Linked DNA regions of Homo sapiens. The protein of the gene in region 3 purifies or fractionates together with the protein of the main gene of each other region. This does not show direct contact. Each region holds a gene or a part of one and is shown on either strand. Other genes may lie near its edges.

Evidence for each region.
Region 1: the proteins of RAB8B (region 3) and PPM1H purify together in Homo sapiens (co-immunoprecipitation; one study listed by IntAct). This does not show direct contact.
Region 2: the proteins of RAB8B (region 3) and SYTL4 purify together in Homo sapiens (affinity purification with mass spectrometry; 2 studies listed by BioGRID and IntAct, with this or other methods). This does not show direct contact.

What each region holds. Positions count from the first base shown.
Region 1 is NC_000012.12:62,799,129-62,802,788, reverse strand, and holds part of PPM1H (protein phosphatase 1H), read left to right. Parts: intron 1-628; coding exon 629-973; intron 974-3,660. UniProt on the Homo sapiens protein: Dephosphorylates CDKN1B at 'Thr-187', thus removing a signal for proteasomal degradation.
Region 2 is NC_000023.11:100,690,473-100,694,132, forward strand, and holds part of SYTL4 (synaptotagmin-like protein 4), read right to left. Parts: intron 738-3,660; coding exon 636-737; intron 167-635; coding exon 91-166; intron 1-90. UniProt on the Homo sapiens protein: Modulates exocytosis of dense-core granules and secretion of hormones in the pancreas and the pituitary. Interacts with vesicles containing negatively charged phospholipids in a Ca(2+)-independent manner.
Region 3 is NC_000015.10:63,253,731-63,255,625, reverse strand, and holds part of RAB8B (ras-related protein Rab-8B), read right to left. Parts: exon of another isoform or gene 120-1,895; coding exon 42-119; intron 1-41. UniProt on the Homo sapiens protein: The small GTPases Rab are key regulators of intracellular membrane trafficking, from the formation of transport vesicles to their fusion with membranes.

The DNA.
Region 1 (3,660 bases), on a different chromosome or scaffold from region 3:
AACATGGTGAAACCCCATCTCTACTAAAAATACAAAAAAAAATTAGCCTGGTGTGGTGGCACGCGCCTGTAGTCCCAGCTACTCCAGAGGCTGAGGCATGAGAAGACTGAGGCATGAGAATCGCTTGAACCTGGGCGGTGGAGGTTGCAGTGAGCCTAGATCGCGCCACTGAACTCCAGCCTGGGCCACAGAGTGAGACTCTGTCAAAAAAAAAAAAAAGACGGGAGTTAAGGAGTTAGGTGTTCAAGCTGGACTCGTACAGACTTGTCTGTTTGTAGGAGAGTTTTATGCAAACACCTACACTTCAAATTAGAGTAGATCTCACCCTCCAAGTAGTAGCTTAGTGTATGATCATTTGGGCTCCCTTGCTAGGTGGGGAGGCAGAGACCGCTTCATCCTTCTGGTGCTAGTAACAACAATGGCTCATTTGGGGACCCTTCCCTGAGTGTTTTTTTTGTTTTTGTTTTTGTTTGTTTTATTTTGTTTTGTTTGCTATGTTTTGACCGCATTGTTTGCAGACGACAGACAACCAAGTGGACCCTCAGTCCCATAGATGTCCCACAATCTGTATGACCCTGAGGCAAAGTCCACAGCCGTTCTCACTCCTCCCTGTCGTCCTCTCCCACAGGAATCCGAGGGTGTTTCCTGCCACTATTGGTCGCTGTTTGACGGGCACGCGGGGTCCGGGGCCGCGGTGGTGGCGTCACGCCTGCTGCAGCACCACATCACGGAGCAGCTGCAGGACATCGTGGACATCCTGAAGAACTCCGCCGTCCTGCCCCCTACCTGCCTGGGGGAGGAGCCTGAGAACACGCCCGCCAACAGCCGGACTCTGACCCGGGCAGCCTCCCTGCGCGGAGGGGTGGGGGCCCCGGGCTCCCCCAGCACGCCCCCCACACGCTTCTTTACCGAGAAGAAGATTCCCCATGAGTGCCTGGTCATCGGAGCGCTTGAAAGTGCATTCAAGGAAATGGTAGGTATTCCTGGGAGTCTGGGGCAGCAGGGCCAGGCTGGCGCCTGCGCCAGGTCTGTCCGTCCTTCCTGGAGGGCTCCCAGAAAGCGCACGGTTTTGCTGCCTGGCTCCACCTGGACGGCCCCCTGTGATAATGGGGCTTCCATTCCCAATAGAAATTGGCAGCAGACAGAGTTCCTGGCATCAAGTGCTGGCAAAAATGTAAAAGAAGGCTGAGTGCGGTGGCTCACGCTTGAAATCCCAGCACTTTGGGAGGCCGAGGCAGGAGGTCAGGAGTTCAAGACCAGCCTGGTCAACATAGTGAAACCCCGTCTCTACAAAAATACAAAAATTAGCCGGGCATGATGGCCGTTGCCTGTAATCCCAGCTACTCGGGAGGCTGAGGTGGGAGAATTGTTTGATCCTGGGAGACAGAGATTGCAGTGAGCCAAGATTGCGCCACTGTGCTCCAGCCTGAGCAACAGACCGAGACTGCGTCTCAAAAAAAAAAAAGTAAAAGAAGATGAAAGAGGGGGACAGTGCATGAGGTCAGAGGCTTATTAAATACAGGCCTTATTGCTTTTATTTCCTATATTCATATTGATGCCAGCTGGTACGATTGCACTTAGATGTGAGCATGATCACCATCTGTTTTACAGATGTGTATAAAGTCCGGTGTTGGGGGAAACAGGGTTTAGGAAAGTGCTCAAAAGTCCCCATCCTATACAGATGTGATCTAAGAACGGCTGTTTTACCACAACTGGGAATGTGGTTCACACTGCAGACAAAGTGCTGGAGGAGAACAGAGCCAGGGGCCAATATCCAAGAAGTCTTAGTCTTACCCAGGCATGTGGATTTGTCTGTTCGTTTCCATCTGAATGGGTCTGATCGGGAGTTCATCATCCTTCGCTGTTGGCCTCACTCCTGAGCATGTCCTCGGGAGAGTGCCACAGCTCTCGCTGTCCCTTGCTGCCCCTCTGCCTGGCAGGAGTGCACATAGAAGCCGCCTCTGCTTTGTTCTATGCCAGCTCTTTCCCTCTGTGAGCTTACTTTATCCTAAGCCAATTATTTTGGTTTTAAAGATTTTATTTCTTGCTCGGCAGCCTGCATACAGATAAAGAATAAGAGATATTTAAGGATATTTATAAGGGCTTGAGTTAGGCAAGTGGGCAGTCATGGCCTTAAAACCTGGAGATTACAGGCCGGGCACGGTGGTTCATGCCTGTAATCCCAGCACTTTGGGAGGTCGAGGTGGGTGGATCGCAAGGTCAGGAGTTCGAGACCAGCCTGGTGAATAAGGTGCAACCCCGTCTCTACCAAAAATACAAAAAAATTAGTCGGGCGTGGTGGCACATGCCTGTAATCCCAGCTACTTGGGAGGCTGAGGCAGGAGAATTGCTTGAATACAGGAGGCAGAGGTTGCAGTGAGCTGAGATCATGCCACTGCACTCCAGCCTGGGCAACAACAGCGTGACTCCATCTCAAAAAAACAAATAAACAAAAAAAAAAAACCTGGAGATTACAAAGTGATGAGAAGCTGTTAAATGAAGTCAAAACAGCTAGAAGCGTCTTGCCAGAACCGGATAGGCACATGGTGCATGTTCCAGGATCTCACGGCATCAGGTAGTGTGCTAAGAAGGAAAGTAAATAATGACTATACATATCGTCATCTGATTTGTTTGTAAGGCAAAAATAGTTCATATATTCACCCCTCAAATTTGCATCCTCTTTTTATTTAAACGTGTCCCTTCTTTGGTCTCAGCTTTTTCTCTCCTTGTTACAGAGATAACATTTACCCTTTGACTAGCAGGTGGTTTAAAATGCACCTTGCTGGGCGTGGTAGTGGTGCATGCCTGTCATTCCAGCTACTCAGGAGGCTGAGGCCGGAGGATTGTTTGAGCCCAGGAGTTCTGAGCTGTCATGTGGGTTCAGTGTCAATGTGGTGACCTCCTTGGAGCAGAGCACCACCGGGATGCCTGAGGAGGGGTGACCTAGCCCAGATCAGGTTATATCTCCAGTGCTTTTTTGTCACTGTATTCCAGCTTGTGCAACACAGCAAAACCCCATCTCTTAAAAAATAAAATTAAGAATAAAAATGTAAAAATAAAATGCACTTCTATCTCAAGACTGTCTGATAGCCTGCAACCCTGCAATCCCAATGAAAATACCAGGAGGCTGGAAAAGATTATTTAGGAAAAAGGGAATTAAGGTAGGAAAATTGACTCCCACTCAGTCGTGGTGTAAAATCTCACTCTCTGCCTCTGTAGAGGCTCTGATGTCAATAAATGTTTCTAGACACTAATACTCAGAATGCCAAGTATTGAATTTATTTTTTTAATTATTTAGGCAAAAATTTGACAATGGGCTCTCCTTGTAATGTAATGTAATGTAATTCAGTTTGCATGGTAGAAGTGAAAAATAAAGGAAACGTTGAGATTTTCATTTCCTTCAGTTGTGACTAGTGCCACAGGACATCTTTTACCTGGAGCTGCTGCATTCTCAATTTTGTCCACTAGAGGCCAATGTCACATTGACTCAGGACTCCACAGGGGTCTCAGGCTGTTCCTGCCCATTAATGGCTCAGGGTTGCTCTTAACAACTGTGCTGGCAAAGAAAGGTTCATTCAGAAAAATACTTAAGAGGCTCATTTTTAAAATATTTCTACTTTTAATGAACCAATTCATTACCTCAAATTTTTCTTGGAAACT
Region 2 (3,660 bases), on a different chromosome or scaffold from region 3:
GGAGGGAGGGAAAGACGGAGGGAGACAGGAGGTAAAGGAGAAAGGGAAGGAAGGGAGGGGAGGAAGGTGGCTCAATAACCTGAAGCTTACCTTTTCTACTTGAGATTTGGGAGCAGACATCTTCTTCCATTCTGGAAAGAGGCCAGATTTATCCAGAGAGTCTCTCCTGGAGGTAGATTCAGAAATTATAACTAAGTCACCTCCTACCCTTCCCCTTCTACCCAGGGATCAAAGCTCTATGGAAGGAGAGCCAATGGCTTGGGTCATCGTAATAACCAAATTCAGAAGGTACACTTCGCATGTGATTTACCTGGAAGGAATGCAGAAGATCAGATAGGCAACTTTGCACAAACACAAACACTCACACCCTCATTCTTAAGGGACAGCAGCATCAGTTGCTACTGGGCTAAGAAGAATACTCCAAGATACTGGGGGAATTGACTAGAGATGTCAATGTGTTCCAGGAAGCTGTGCTCAGAGCCAAATCAGTAGACGTGCTACTGAAAAGACTTCTGTTGAGGACAGAGAAAATACTTCGTTCAACTTCCTGAGGACAGAAGTCAGGAACACTGATGCTGCAGAACAAAATCACAACTTGGGTTGAGAGGAGATGAGGGAAATGGGGGGAACCCCACCTGGAGGTGCTATCCGAGTCAGCTGTGAAGCTATCCAGACTCTCACTCTCAGCTTCCAATGCACTCTTTCCACTTTTCAGCTTTGGCACTTCAAATAGCACACTAGAATAAAAACCAAGAGCCAATATTGAAAGGAAGCAGGTTCTCCTGCCTCTAGTCAGGCCTCTTTCCAATCCATTCACAATCGTAGCCTGAGTGATCTTTCTAAAATAAATATGAGTATACTTTAAACATATAATAAATTAATTAATTAAGAAATAAGGTCTCGCAATGTTGCCCAGGCTGGAGTACTGTGGCTATTCACAGGTGCCATCATAGTGCACAACAGTCTCTAACTCCTAGGCTCAAGCAACCCTGCTGCCTCAGCCTTCTGAGTAACTGTACCATGGTGTACCAGCTGAGTACAGGCATGTACCATGGTGCCCAGCTGAGTATACTTTTTTTTTTTGAGACGGAGTCTCACTCTGTCTCCCAGGTTGGAGTGCAGTGGCGCGATCTTGGCTCACTGCAAGCTCCGCCTCCTGGGTTCACGCCATTCTCCTGCCTCAGCCTCCCGAGTAGCTGGGACTACAGGTGCGTGCCACCATGCCCGGCTAATTTCTTTGTATTTTTAGTAGAGATGGGGTTTCAATGTGTTAGCCAGGATGGTCTCGATCTCCTGACCTCGTGATCCGCCTGCCTCGGCCTCCCAAAGTGCTGGGATTACAGGCGTAAGCCACCACACCCGGCCCTCAGTATACTTTTAAAACTCTTCAGTGGTTCCCCATTGCTGTTGGGATTTAGCTGAAACTCCTTAGCATGGCAAGAAATCCTCATGATTTGGCCCCTGCTCACCCTCTCCAGTCTCATTTTTCACCCCCTACTCCTCCTTCAAGCTTTATATTTTAGAAAGACAAAGTTATTTTGTTTCTCTGAATATCCTGAAGCTCTCCATCTTCCCTCTTTTATCTGCCTAAGATATTCTTTTCACAATGGCCACTTTTCTTCACCTGCCTCAATCTACTCCTGCTTCAGGTCTCTCCTTATATGTCAATTCCTCCAGATCTCTCTGGCCATGCCCCCACCCTAAGTCTCGATTAGTAACCTTCCTCTGTGCTCCCATAGCATCCTGATTTCCTAGTAACAGTCACCACATATGTAACTATTTATGTATTTTAAACAAATTATTTATTTGGTTCAATAATTTAAACAAATTATTTAATGTCTTTCTCCTCCATTCGACAAAGTTCCATAAGATCAGTGACCACGTATCTTATTTACTGATGTGTTCTCAGTGCCTTGAAGAGAGACTAGCATAGAGTATGCACTCAAGTATTTTTATTGACTGAATTATTGAATAAATGCCCTCAGTGGGACTGAGATATATCCATAAATAAGCAGTATGTCTAGAAGACAGTATTCAGGTGACCAGAATTCTTTTTTTTAGCTTAATCGCCTTAATGAAGGATGACTCTGGGCATTCAAAATACCAGTTCTCATCTTTCAAGGGAAGGATACGGTTCCTCGGCCCCTTACCTCAAAGAATTAGTGAGAGCAGCAGGAAAAGGGGGAAAAAACATCGATTCTTCCTCAAATATCTCAAATAACTTCCCTTGGCTCCCCGGACACCACACTCTCCTGGTTTCCTCCTCCAACCTCACTGGCTGCTGCTTCTCAGTCTCCTTTGCTAGTCCTTCCTCCTCCCGTAGACCTCTAATATTTAGATTATGTCCAAACTTCTTCCTTGGGCTGCTCCTCCTCTCTATCTAGAATTATCCCTAAATGATCTCATCTAGTCTCATGGCTTTAAATATCCTCAATAAACTAATAACTCAAATATATTTATTTTTATTTTTTATGTTTTTTGAGATGGAGTCTCTGTCACCCAGGCTGGAGTGCAGTGGCACAATCTCGGCTCACTACAACCTCCACCTCCTGGGTTCAAGCGATCTCCTGCCTCAGCCTCTTGAGTAGCTGGGATTACAGGTTTGTGCCACCATGGCTGGCTAATTTTTTTATTTTTAGTAGAGACAGGTTTTCACCATGTTGGCCAGGCTGGTCTTGAGCTCCTGACCTCAGGTGATCCATCCGCCTCAGCCTCCCAAAGTGTTGGGATTACAGGCGTGAGCCATCATGCCCGGCCTCAAATTTATCTCTTACTCAAACTCCAGACTTGTTTTTCCAATGGCCTCCTCAATGTCTCCACGTGGATGTCTCAAACACAGCAAGCCCAAAACCAAAGCCCTAATCTTCCCCCAAAACTGCTCTTCGCTCTGTCTCATCAAATGGCAATTCCCTTTCATTTCTCAAGTCAAAAACGCTAAGAATCATCGGTTACTCCTCTTTTTCTCACAATACAAATCAAATCTGTCAGCAAATCCTCTTCAATGTATACCTAGACTCTGATACGTTCTCACTGCCTCCACTGCCATTACTCTGGTCCAAACCACCATCATGTAGCTCTTGGATGGTTGCAGTAGCCTCCTAACTAATCCTGCTTCTTCCCTTGGCTTTGACTTTCCCTCAACAGCCAAAATGAGCTTTTAAAATGTAAATCAGGGATAGAACTATCATATGACCCAGCAATTCCATTCCTGGGTACCTACCCAACAGAACTAAACAATATATGTCCACACAAAAATGTTACATGAATGTTCATAGCAGCATTATTCCTAATAGCCAAAAGATGAAAACATCCTAAATGTCCATCAATGCATGATTAGACAAATGAAATGTGGTATATTCATATAATGGATTATTCATCAATAAAAGACAATGAAATTCTGATACATGCTGCAACATGGATGAACTTTGAAATCATTATGCTAATTGAAATAAGCCAAACACAAAAGGCCACATATTGCATGACTGCATTTATATGAAATGTCTAGATTAGGCAAATCCATCAAGACAGAAAGCATATTAGGGGCTGGGGTAAATGGAGGTGGCTACTTAATGGCTATCGGGTTTCTATTTGGGATGGTGAAAATGTTCTGAAATTAGATAGTGGTGATCTAATTTCACAACATTCTGAAAGTACTAACAA
Region 3 (1,895 bases):
AGGACTCTTCTCCAATGTCACCATTCTCTTTCCACACATACCTCTTCAATGTTTCTGATCCAATTTTTAATATTGTCAAAGGATTTTTCATTTGTGATGTCATAGACCAGCATAATGCCCTATAAGGGGGAAAAATATCTTTATTTAGTACTTTATATATTTAAAGTTATAGTATATAATGTCAATGTACTCCTACCCTCCAGAAACCTTTTGTTTGTCCATTTTTTCCCTTTAAAAAGGGTTCATAATAAATTTGAAAAGTACAGAGAAACAAAAATCAATAAATACTTATTCCACTGGTCTCACCATGTAAATAAAAACCCTTTTAACATTTTCACTGTTAACCTTTAATGAATTAGTGATCGTGGTAAAGGTGATACACCCTTTCTACCTGACCTCACATGATAACAATCAGCCCCAATTGGAGCTGAGTGTTAAGTCAAAACAGCGATAACATTGAGAGTAAGAGTTAATCACTTCCACTGTGCACTTGTTTATTCCAAGTAGAAACTATCTTGCTTTCTACTCTTCTACTAAGATTGAGACCACACTGCTTTAAAATTATTTTTTATGTAGGTTGATCAAAAAATAGGTTGTCACTATTTATCTAAGTACATCACAGACACTTAAAATCCAATGCATTTGTTATACTGGTTTAATGAAAGGCATTCTCATCATATTTTTAAAGACTCCATGTCTGGTATTTCTTTTTTTGAGACACAGTCTCGCTCTGTCACCCAGGCTGGAGTGCAGTGGCATGATCTCCACTCACTGCAAGCTCCACCTCCCGGGTTCACGCCATTCTCCTGCCTCAGCCTCCCGAGTAGCTGGGACTACAGGCGCCCGCCACCACACACAGCTAATTTTTTGTATTTTTAGTACAGACAGGGTTTCACCATATTAGCCAGGATGGTTTCGATCTCCTGACCTCGTGATCCGCCCGACTTGGCCTCCTAAAGTGCTGGGATTACAGGTGTGAGCCACCGCGCCCAGCCCATGTCTGGTATTTCTAAAAGGTTTACCTTCCAAATGTTTAAACTAACACCTGTATGCTACTGCAAAATCTATATCCCCAGACCACACTTCTGTACTAAGTGCTAGAACTACTCACCTGTCCATCTACTACATAAATATTTAGTGAGCACCTACTGTGTGCCTGATACTATACTAGATCCTACTAGCAGTGAACAAGATAGAAAAGGTCTCTTCCTCTTGTAGATGGCTAACAAAGACAACAGACAATAAACCAATATCTATACAACTAATTATAATTTTGACAACTGCTATGAAGATGCATGGGGAGCTCATATGCTAGGGGTGTAATTCAATCTGGTTGAGGGGCTGGAGTGGGCAGGGGAGGCTTCCCTGAGGAAATGACATTAAAGCCAAAGCCTGGGAACTTAGTAGACTTAAACTAGGCAAAGGGCTAGGAGCTGCGGTGAAGAGGGGAAGCCCAGGTACCTGGCAAATAGCAGAAACATTGTAAATCTCTTGCTGATGTTGAACCAGAGACCGCTGGATTGAGTGAAAGAAAGTCAGCTTGGCAAGGCTGCACAGATCTAATGGGCGGAGGGCACAAGCTGAGGCTGAAGGGCTAGGCTGGGGTACTCAAGAGACCACTGTCTGGACATTGGCCAATAGATATCCCCTTGTGATCACGGCAAACTCAACAAAGTAAAACAAGATTGTCTTGTCTCCTCTGAATCTTCTATTTGTCCTTGTATTACCATTTTGGTGAAAGTAATACAACCCAGTCAGCCAGCCCAAGCACACATGTGGGAGTTATCTTCTCTATAGCCAATCAGTCACTAAGTCCTGGAGACTCAATGTCCTAAATATTCCAGAATCTTACCTACCACACACATGGCCTTATTCAGATTCTCACAAATTAGTCT